Linked DNA regions of Homo sapiens. The protein of the gene in region 1 purifies or fractionates together with the protein of each later gene. This does not show direct contact. Each region holds a gene or a part of one and is shown on either strand. Other genes may lie near its edges.

Region 1 (7,558 bases):
CCCGGGAGCTTCTCCAGGGTTATTTGGGAAATGAGGGGGAACTCCAATCCCTGAGAAAGCGCTCAGGGGCTTGCTGAGGTGAGCGCAAATGGAAGCACAAGGCCGGGCTGGCCGTGGGCTCAGTAACCAGTCGGCTGCCCGGCTTGCGCCAGCACTAAATGCTCGATCAGAAAGAGAAAAAGAGGCGCAATAATTCCAAATTTCAGGAAAAGTCAAATCGGAGAGGGGGGACGCAGGTCTCTTCAGACTGCCCATTCTCCGGGCCTCGCTGAATGCGGGGGCTCTATCCACAGCGCGCGGGGCCGAGCTCAGGCAGGCTGGGGCGAAGATCTGATTCTTTCCTTCCCGCCGCCAAACCGAATTAATCAGTTTCTTCAACCTGAGTTACTAAGAAAGAAAGGTCCTTCCAAATAAAACTGAAAATCACTGCGAATGACAATACTATACTACAAGTTCGTTTTGGGGCCGGTGGGTGGGATGGAGGAGAAAGGGCACGGATAATCCCGGAGGGCCGCGGAGTGAGGAGGACTATGGTCGCGGTGGAATCTCTGTTCCGCTGGCACATCCGCGCAGGTGCGGCTCTGAGTGCTGGCTCGGGGTTACAGACCTCGGCATCCGGCTGCAGGGGCAGACAGAGACCTCCTCTGCTAGGGCGTGCGGTAGGCATCGTATGGAGCCCAGAGACTGCCGAGAGCACTGCGCACTCACCAAGTGTTAGGGGTGCCCGTGATAGACCGCCAGGGAAGGGGCTGGTTCGGAGGGAATTCCCGCTACCGGGAAGGTCGGAACTCGGGGTGATCAAACAAGGAATGCATCTCACCTCCGTGGGTGCTTGTGCTGCGCAAGGAATTATTACCGGAGCGGTTGCGATGGCCTTTGCCCGGCGACCCAAGAAGAGTAAGCAAACTACCGTCCACCCAGCGGATCAGGTCCAATCCCTGCGCCTCGGCCCAATCCCTAGAGCCCCGCGGCGCCGTATCCCCTCCCCCCCAACTCTGGACCCCGCCGTCTGTCCCCGCGGCATCACCAGGGTGCTGGAGTTTTCCGAGCAGGCCCCTTGCGCTAAGCGAGAGGATCTGTGAGGGAAAGTTGGGAGAGCCACTTCTGGCTTTTGTGAAGATCCCGGGCCTGAGGTATTGGTAGTGACAGGAGAGAGTTCTCTTTTTTTCTTCCTTCTTTCCATCCCTCCTCCTCCCCCCACTTCTTCTTTTTGGTTTTCTCATGGTTTTGGATTTTAGTTTTTGCAATTTGTCATAAAGCAAATGACAAAGGCTTGGAGTTCTTAGTCCAGCTCAGTTCTTTTATCCCTTCTGGGTAAACCAGTCTCAGAGAAGGCAAATGACTGATGCAAAATATCCCAACCAGCAACTTCGTGGCTGAACTGGACCAGAACCCAAGCCTCAAGAGTCTCAAGCCAGCTCTCCCTCTTTAAAAATTTTTTTGTAAAATATGGAATGCTTCATAAATTTGCATGTCATCCTGGTGCAAGGGCCATGCTAATCGTCTCTGTATTGGTTCAACTTTTTTTCCTAAGCAAGCATCCTCTCTCCCCTCTGATCCAATACGAGATTACTGTGCTTCCCAGCCCACATCCTCACCACGTCCACCTTTCCTGAGGTTGGTGAGATGAGACTCCTATTGGAGAGGATCCCTCCCTGGGGAGCCTGCTTCTGAGGAGACCCCAGGTTATCCCAAGCTGGTGCCCCAGCCCCACACCCTCTGGAATATGGGAGAAGGGAGCCTTGAAGAAACAGGTGATGATGGAAGGAGATGTTTCCTCATTTGTAAAATGGGGATAATAGTGCCTGGAGTTTGAGCGTGTGTGTGTGTGTGTGTGTGTGTGTGTGTGTGTGTGTGTATGCACGCACAGGACTTGGATGTTGTGAGTGCTTGATAAATTCCAAAGGGCTGCAGAGTATGTCCTGCTGCTGCATAGGGGTGAAGATCCTCTGAGTCCAGAGAAGCCCTGAGAGCTTAGAACTTAAGACAAGTATGCACTGGGGATCTCTTGGCTTTGGAGGATGCCCAAAGCCAACTGTGGCAGAACCCTGCCAGAAAACCCATGCCTGCCCTTCTTTCCTGGGTCTGACAAGAAAGGATTCTGTGCACATGGTTCTAAGAGGGAATGTCTTTCCACTTATCCTGTCAACTCCAGCTCAAAAGCACTTCCTTTGGGAAACCCTCCCTCACAGCCAACCCCACCCAAAAAACATTCTCTTCCTTTGATGCACAACTTTGATGCCATCCCTGGAAACTCTCCTCAGCACTGCTGTAAGGCTGCCTCCATCCCTGTAGAGGAAAATGGTGATGGTAGAATGAAAGGTTTAGAAGGATATATATCCTCACAGGTTCACAGCTCCAGCTCTAAGGAGATGGTGGCATGGCGAGAATTAAGGAAGAAAGGGAGAAAGGTAGTCCCACATAGAATAAGCATTTCTCTACTGAGCAAACCCTCCACAGCCTGTTGGACGAGAGGGGAGTGGGTTCTCCAGCTGCCCTGCAAAAGCCCCTTCTTCCCGGCTCCAAGGCTTCAAGATGAAGAGCTCCAAGCCAGGTGCTAGAGTCTCTCCTTGGAAAAACTCACCTCTATCTATTCCACTGGGGAGTCTAGTTTGAAATAGACTTGCTCTTCCTCCTTGCAGGACACCTGACTGAACTTCAACCACCCCTGCACACCCATTTGATTGATTTTGTCTAAGGAGGCTTGGGCTCCATTCCCCAGCCAGTGTTTTCTCCTATTCTTCCAGGCTGCTGCCTCCTCCTCCTCCTCCTCCTCATCCTCCTCCTTCTTTTTTCGACATAGAGTCTCACTCGGTCAGTCAGGCTGGAGTGAAGTGGCATGATCTCAACTCACTGCTGCCTTAACATCCAGGGCTCAAGTGATCCTCCTGCCTCAGTCTCCTGAGTAGCTGGGACTACGGGCATACACCACCATGACCAGCTAATTTTTGTACTTTTTGTAGAGATGAGTCTCCCTATGTTGCCCAGGCTGATCTCAAACTCCTGAGCTCAACCGATCTGCCTGCCTGGGCCAAATGCTGGGATTACCGGCCTGAGCCACCTTGCCTGATCTCTCTTTCTTATCACCATCCTCTTCCATCTCCCAGTTCTACGAGGGCTACCTTCACTCTGAACGCTAACAATGAGAGCATGTGTGTGTGTACAAACATGAATATGCCTGCCCAGTTGCATAAAGTGGGAACAGGTGTTTGGGTATGCTGGGGAATTTGTGAAGACTGGCAGTTTAGGGACACATCTAACATAAGGCATCTTAGATGTGTGTGGACAGGTATTTCTCATAGAGCAGGAACACAAGTATACATTTTATATGCTTGGATCTTCTGTATTTTCTAGTAGGTACACCAGTGATTTGACTTGTATACTCATGAATCCATGTAAGAGACAAGTACTAGATAGTGTTTTTATTTAGGGATAGTGCTAATTCATCTTTAGGTATGTAGATGTATACACATCACAGCCTAAAGTGTTTGCAGATTTACAAATGAACCTCTCTTTTTATAGAGGAATGCTAGTGTGAACATCAGTGTAGGTACCTCCATGTTGGTATATGTGAGTATACATGTTGTATTTGAATGGAGTCCCTGTGTAGTTGTGTACACGTGTCAATAAATGCTTGTATACGTGGACACGTGTCCATCGAGGCCATGGATACTAATGTTTAGAAGCAAGTCCTGAACACAGCCTGGAAAATGCGCCAGGGAGACTGGCCTGCAGTATTTCCTGTGCCCGCCCAGGAGCCATCCAACTGGACTCATCTCCCACTCCCAGATTTCGTCCGGGTTCAAGCAACACTTCAGCCCCCTGCGGCGCCAGGTAAGGCGGGGCACCGCACAGGCTAAAGCCCAGAGGGCGGATCCCTTCTTCAGCCTCGGGGGCCTGCAAGGAGCTGCGGTGTCGCAACCAAACCAGGGCCCCTGCCGGAAGCGGAAGCCAGCACGCAGGGCGGTGGGGTGCAGCGGCGGCGGTCTCGGCGTGCCAGGCCCAGGGCGCCCCGCGGGGGCGTGCGCGCCACACGCGTGCGGGGCAGGCTGGGCGCCGGGCGGCACCCTCCCAGCCCCGGCGTCTATTTACCAACAAACTGCCGGCGCTCAGCAGCGGCGCATTCCGACGCGCTGACTAAGCGGTTGGCGCTGGCGGTCTGCACTTGACTCCCCTTCAGGTCCACCGCGGCTGGACCAGAATCGACGTGCAGATCCCCGAAATCGGGAGACTGCAAATGCAGATTCCCTGCGTCTCCGCAGCCCCCGGGCCTCTGCCCACCACCCAGCTCCCTGTCTCTTGGGCATCCAGTCTCGCCACCTCTCTAGCATTTCTGCCATTATAACCGAGGTTCCTGGACTGCACCAATCGCTCTGCAACCCCAGCACCTCTCGGAGGAGACCCCGAGGTAGACCGGCCTGGAGCATGCGCACCGCCCCTCTCCCATTTACCACTTCTCTACAGCGGGCTGTCCCGGGGGGCGGGGCCCGGCTGCAAGTCTCCGTGAGGTCACCGCGGGCGGTAGCCAATCCGGGACGTCTAAGAGGGCGGGGCCCCCGTCGGGTCCCGGGAACCGAACCCGATGGAGAGGAGGGGGCCCCCATGGATTTAGGGGGGGAGGGGAAAGTCATGGGGGGCACCCCCCCGGAACCCCTTTCCCAGGCGCGCGTTCTCCGCTGAAAGAGGCTCAGAGAGACACTTTCTCCGGGATCTTAAGTGTGGGGGCTGCTGGCTGGGGGGCCCGTCCGGCCCAACGCCGGAGGCTTGGAAAAGAGAGTTGGCAGCGGGAGCGGACTACGTGCCGGGCCATGGCCCTTCTGCCCGGGCCCTGGCCACAATGACCTCTTTGCCCTGCCCCCTCCCCGGCCGGGACGCCTCCAAAGCTGTCTTCCCAGACCTCGCCCCTGTCCCGTCGGTAGCGGCTGCCTACCCGCTTGGCTTGTCCCCTACAACCGCAGCCTCCCCCAATTTGTCCTACTCCAGGCCGTATGGCCACCTCCTGTCTTACCCCTACACCGAGCCAGCGAACCCCGGAGACTCCTACCTGTCCTGCCAGCAACCCGCGGCGCTCTCTCAGCCCCTCTGCGGACCTGCAGAGCACCCTCAGGAACTCGAGGCAGGTAAGTTCGGCCGTGGAGGCTCTTCCCACCTCTGGGGTTCGGCTCCTGTGCGCCCCTAAACTTCTCCCTCGCCTGGTTGGACGCAGCTAGCGGGATTCAAACCTTCCTTGGATTCCCTGGGATGTGGGGGTGGGGGGAGGGCGAAGGGATGGGGCGGGAGACACGGGGGGAGGGGCGGGGGAGAGTTGATCTAGGTCTCCTTTCAAAACCGACCTGGTTTCGATTTGCAGTTGTGTAAAGACAGGCGAGAGGGCCCCCCCAACCCCCCACCTGGAGCAGCGGGGCTGTCTGTACCTACTAGTAACGGAAAACTGAAGCAATCCAGATGTGGGGATGGGGGCCTAGCCCCTTTGTCAGAATCCCCCAGCCCCCGTCCTGTACTCCCTTCCTGCCCCATTGTCGCCCCTCTCTGCGTTAGTCTTGTCTCAGAAAGCAGTGATCAAGCCAAACACTGAAAAACAGATCAAGTCCTGGTAGGAGGGCTGTAGACATCGAGGCTTATTCTGGGCTCTGTCCTCTCCCTTCCCTGGCCTTACCCGCTCTCCTCAGACCAGGCCTGACCTTGACTGGAAGCTGGCCTGGCAGAATCTGGGAGTAGGACCCTTCTATCCATTGTTCTGAGAAGGTAGCCAAAGGCTGGTAGGAAAGTCGCTCATCTCTCCCTGACTACCTCAGCCTTCCAGCCAAAGGAGCCGGCCATCGCTGTCATCTCCACTCTTTGGCTTTGGGGTAGGTTAGGCCACAGTTCCCGTTGCCTGGAGCAACTCTGAGCTCCTGAGAAAGTGCTCACTGGAAGGCCTCAATGAAGCGGAGAACCTGGCCCGTCTTTGGGATCCTGGGCCTTGCAGCTGAGCTGACATACAATGTGGGTATGGCATTGCCCACAATCCCATCTGCACTGGCTCCAGCTTAGCCTCCAGGTCTCTGGACTCTCTGCCTCCATCTAATTGCTCACCCCCTCCTCCTGCAATTGTCTTTGGCAGTCTCTTCCAAGGAGGCACACCCATTAGGTGACTTCACTGGAGTCAGCTCAGGACCAAGACATCTTCCTCCCTTCTCCTGTGGCTCTGACATGCTCACAAACCATCAGAGCCAGAAGTGACCCTAGGATTTAGAAGCTCAACTTCTTTGATGTATAGATGGGTAAAGCATGTGGCCAGGAGCATCGATTTTAGGGAGCTTCCTCCAACCCCCCCAAAATTAACTGCCTTCTGTGACAGAACTGTGGCTGTCTCCTGGGCTGCGGAGTGTGGCTGGAGTGGGCGCAGTTGCAGGGAGGAGTAGTTCTAGTTTTTCAAATGAATCCCTTTGACTGTCCTTTAGTGTATGCTAATAGGATATGTTTGTGTGTGTTATGTGTTTGGGGACTGGGGTGGGAATATCATGACCTTGTCCTCAGGGGAATTGCTGGCAGTAGGGTTGGTGTTGTCAGTCTTGTCTGAGATCTAAGGACAACAGAGTGGAGAGTTCATTTTCTTTAAGGACTTTCCCCCATCCAGCGAAAAACCACACACACCCAGATTTCCTTAGAATACATTTCTAGCATTTCTCTGCTGGAACTGGTGGGTTTGGGCGCTCTAGAGTGGAGGGCATGTGATCGAGAGCTTGGGGTCCTCCTTTTACTTCCACTCTATGTCCACTCCTGCCTTGGGAAAAGGTTTGGCTCCAAGTGAGCGGTGCCACCACCCCGTTGAGCCGTAGGGAGCAGCGGGCCTGGAGGGAGGCCTTGGGGCTCCATGATCGCGACCCGGGCAGATCTCGTAACTTGCTGGAACTGGGGTAGGGAAAGGCAGCTGTCCGGGAAGGAACTTGGAGGGGGTCTGCTGGGAGAGTTGGGGCGCGGAGGGCTATGCGAATTCAGCAACCGGGTCGGCCTCAGAGACTCTGCGTCCCCGCTCGAATTGCGCAGTCCACGCAGCCAGAGAGGCGCGGGTGGGCTCTGGGCTGCCAGCCCAGAGCTGCCAGCAGTGGGGTCGAGGCAGGGGAGGCAGGACAGGCGCGGGCGGGAGCGGAAACCCAACGGTTTTTCTGGGAATTGGTTGAGGCAGGGTCGAGGAGGGAGGATCTCAGAAGCCCGCAGCGCCCGAGGCCACGGGTGAGGGATGCGGGGGAGGTGACGGCAGCTGGTGACCGCGGCTGGCCGAGGGCGGGTACACTGACGTGTGGAGGGTGAGCCCGACTAGGGGAAGAAGGTGGGGGGACGCGGGCGGACAGAAGCCGCTCTCTCTCGGCTCAGGTCGGCTGGACAGACCCGCAGGGAATGCGGCGAACGCTGCCCTAAGCGCCCGGGCATTGCGGCTGCTCCATCCGCCCTACTCCTCCCATTGCCTGGGACCTCTGCAGCGTCCCCGTAGAGCCGCGCAGGTTAGGGTGGCTGGCTTGGAAGAACAGAAACCCCTCGGCCCAACCCTCCCCTGTCCCTCAGCATTCTAGGGCTG
Region 2 (3,236 bases), on another chromosome or scaffold:
CCACAGATGCTTGTTCTTATTAAAGGGAAGGTGGCTTTAGTCAAGGTAAATATTCTTCTGCTCTCTTGAATCCAGTTTGTAATCCTTCTTTCACCTTCTCTCCAAACTTGAGCATTCACAGGGTAAAAGTCCCATTTTCCCAATTTCTCGTTTTGCTTTATGCTTCAAGGTATACATGAGCTTGCGCTCCTTAAGCAGGCTATAAAGGCAGGCATCTAATTCCTCCTGGCTTTGTTGCATGCCCTATTTATGAGCCAGCAAAATATGTTTGGCCACATGTTTACACCAGCAAAGAAATATGTCTATGGAATGGAAATGTGTCTGCACTAAGTCAGTTGTCAACGTCTATTTAAACAGACTTAAATTTGTGCCTGCATGTTTCTAGCTCTCAAGATACAAAAACACTTTATCCCTCATTGCCACTGTTTTACAAGTTGGATTTTTTAAATCAATGTAATTCTGTTACCACATTTGTGCATATACTTTAACTATATCCCTGTCCACTTATCCAAAGAGCAAATTAAAATAAATATTGTTGTTACCTGATAAAAGTGTCTGGTTTCATTTGGATGAAAAACACTTGGATGTTTTTCCTGCCCAATAAATTGGTTTCTGTTGCTTCCAAATAAAATTTGTTATATTTTGATCTTATAGATGGAATTATTCTAACATTCCTTAATTGTTTTGTAATAGTCACTTTTCTCAATAAAAACCAAAATAGTAATAATGTGAGCTAAATCACAGTATTTCTTACAGTTAAATGCTGTATTCTTGGTACCTTTGTTTGTATGGGTTCCTTTATTTATAAGATCATTCTTGAAATACATTATTTATCTGTAATAATTATGATTAGCTGCATTAAGGAATGAATAATTTTCAACTGGTGGTTTTTCACAGCCAGTGATAAATCCCCTAGAGCAGGGTTTATAGAGAATAAGAGTTCAATAAGCATTTGTGAAATAAATCTTTAGCAGGTTATACAATATTTAGCATGCCTGAGAGGATGGAAACATTTCAGAAGTATAAAAATCAATGCAATTGGCTAAATTGGGAAATTATTAGTCTTTTCACATTTGATCTTATTTTCTGACCTCATTTATAAAGTATTGACATCAGTTTTCAAGTCACTAAATTTATCCTCTGAGAAGAAATCAGTACAAAAGAACAGCGCTACAGTATTTTCCATACACATTTGGGAAGCTCTAAATGTTCTAAAGTTCAAATAGTTCCTGATTTCAGATGCTGAGTGTACTTAGGAGAGTGGCACTGTTTTAATATACGAGGTTTGTTGTTGTTTTTTAATATTGAAGCTTCTAAAAATGTCTCAAACACAAAAAATTCCATGGCTCTGAAATTTAGACTATGACAATAATTAAGAAAATGCAGAAAGGGCACTGGTAGATTTTTAAAAACTATTTTAATACAAGATTAATAGCAATTTTCTATCCAAATCAGAAATGAAAAATCTTAACCCAAATAATATTCATTTGACAGTCACATAAAATTTTAGATTTGATTGGTGCACACATTTATCCTGCATATATATTATGTATATGCACAGAGAGACCTCACTATTATGCCATTGTTAGGGGTCTTTTTTTGGAAGTACCTCATTACAAGGCAATGTCAAAGGTTCCAGTAACTACTCAACTTTGAATGAAGTTCAAAATGTCCCCATGCTAAGCTGAGTCTGTGCCATAGCAAACCATGATATAGCAAGTCTCCAGAATGTGTACAAATCAATACTCTCTTTGTATAAGTTGGTCTAAAACTAAACACTGGCTAATGTCTCCAACAAGGAGGAACACATTACAAATTTATAAGTTATGGTTTCCTTTACTCTTCTGTTGGCAAAGCTAAATTGTGTTTTTAAATAAAAATCAGGTCTGTTCGTTAGTAAGTAAATGGAAATGTGTTTAAATTTCTGCAAGTTTTAGGTAAAACTTGCATTTCCTAATGCGTCTAGGTTTAATCAAATCATTTGATAATTAGCTTTGCAAAAAGAAGTAATAAAAGAATCACATCTCAGGAATATGTTAAGGTTTTTTCCTCCTTAGGGACTTTAGTTCGTGTTCAGTCTGTAGCCGAAACATGTATGTAATGGCAAAAGAATTAAAGAAGGCTAATGTCTGCAGCAGGGAATATAAATTAAAAATCAGGGTTCTGCCTGTAATAATATTTTCAATGTGTTTGCTTTAAAGAATGTTACTTTTATAATTATTACTACTTATCAATGAATAATAATGTTTTTCAGTGTAGACAAAATAGTATTTTCTATCCCTTACATTTAAAGCAGGTGATACAAGTTACTTGATGCTAGCTAGGTAAGTCATTGTAAGGGAGACAGATTTCTAGTGCTAATGTTCTACGATGGCTATAATCAAAGTACCAACTTGGCCTTCGTGAAAATGACAGAAGGTTGTCATGGTTGTCCTTCAATACAGAACCATAAACAGAGCTCTTATTGGTAAATTTGTAATTCATTCTTCTCTGCTAAAGACTTTAGCCTCTGTTTAGCTTTTGTTGTGACACATACAAAGTATAATATATACCAATTACAGACGTGTATTTCTGTTAGAAAAATACATATTATAACTAAAGAACATGTAAATAGAGGCACTTCAATAAGCTAAGTGTTTGCAGTTATGAGCATCACCCACCAATTTCTAGTGTCAGGTTTCAGTGAGCCCATTCCTCTCTATTCATAACAAAAGTTATGATATGATTACAGAATTTAGGGAACATCAGAGCAAATGAGGGGCAGGTCATAAAAAATAATGAAGCCTCATTGCATCCCCTATCACTATGCTGAAATGAGAAAAAATAATTCGAGGGTTGAATTCCAAAATACTTACTGAAATAGGGTAACTAGGTTAAGTGAAATCCTTTAGGGCCAAAACATTTCTCATGTTAAATTAGTCTGAAAATCATATGACATAGTAGTATGATGATAAAAACTAGGAAGTACAACTTGAATGATATTTTGACCACATCCATGCAGGGTGCTAACACTGTGACATCATTAACTGATATCATTTCAGCTCTCTGCCTGGCTCATTATGCATCACTATATCTCATCAATATGAATCATATTGATAATGAAGGTGTTGAAACAAATGAAGCAGGCGTTTATATATTAACTGTGTGTTTAGTGCGTATAGAACATGGGTTCACATTCACTAATATTATGTGTATTCATACACATGCACAAAACCTTTTGGGGGTGAAAGCACAGG

What was found.
Region 2: the proteins of DLX4 (region 1) and GPC6 purify together in Homo sapiens (affinity purification with mass spectrometry; 2 studies listed by BioGRID and IntAct, with this or other methods). This does not show direct contact.

The regions. Positions count from the first base shown.
Region 1 is NC_000017.11:49,964,632-49,972,189, forward strand, and holds the start of DLX4 (homeobox protein DLX-4), read left to right. Parts: upstream 1-4,558; 5' UTR 4,559-4,837; coding exon 4,838-5,120; exon of another isoform or gene 5,121-7,558. UniProt on the Homo sapiens protein: May play a role in determining the production of hemoglobin S. May act as a repressor. During embryonic development, plays a role in palatogenesis.
Region 2 is NC_000013.11:94,405,564-94,408,799, reverse strand, and holds the end of GPC6 (glypican-6 precursor), read right to left. Parts: 3' UTR 780-3,236; downstream 1-779. UniProt on the Homo sapiens protein: Cell surface proteoglycan that bears heparan sulfate. Putative cell surface coreceptor for growth factors, extracellular matrix proteins, proteases and anti-proteases. Enhances migration and invasion of cancer cells through WNT5A signaling.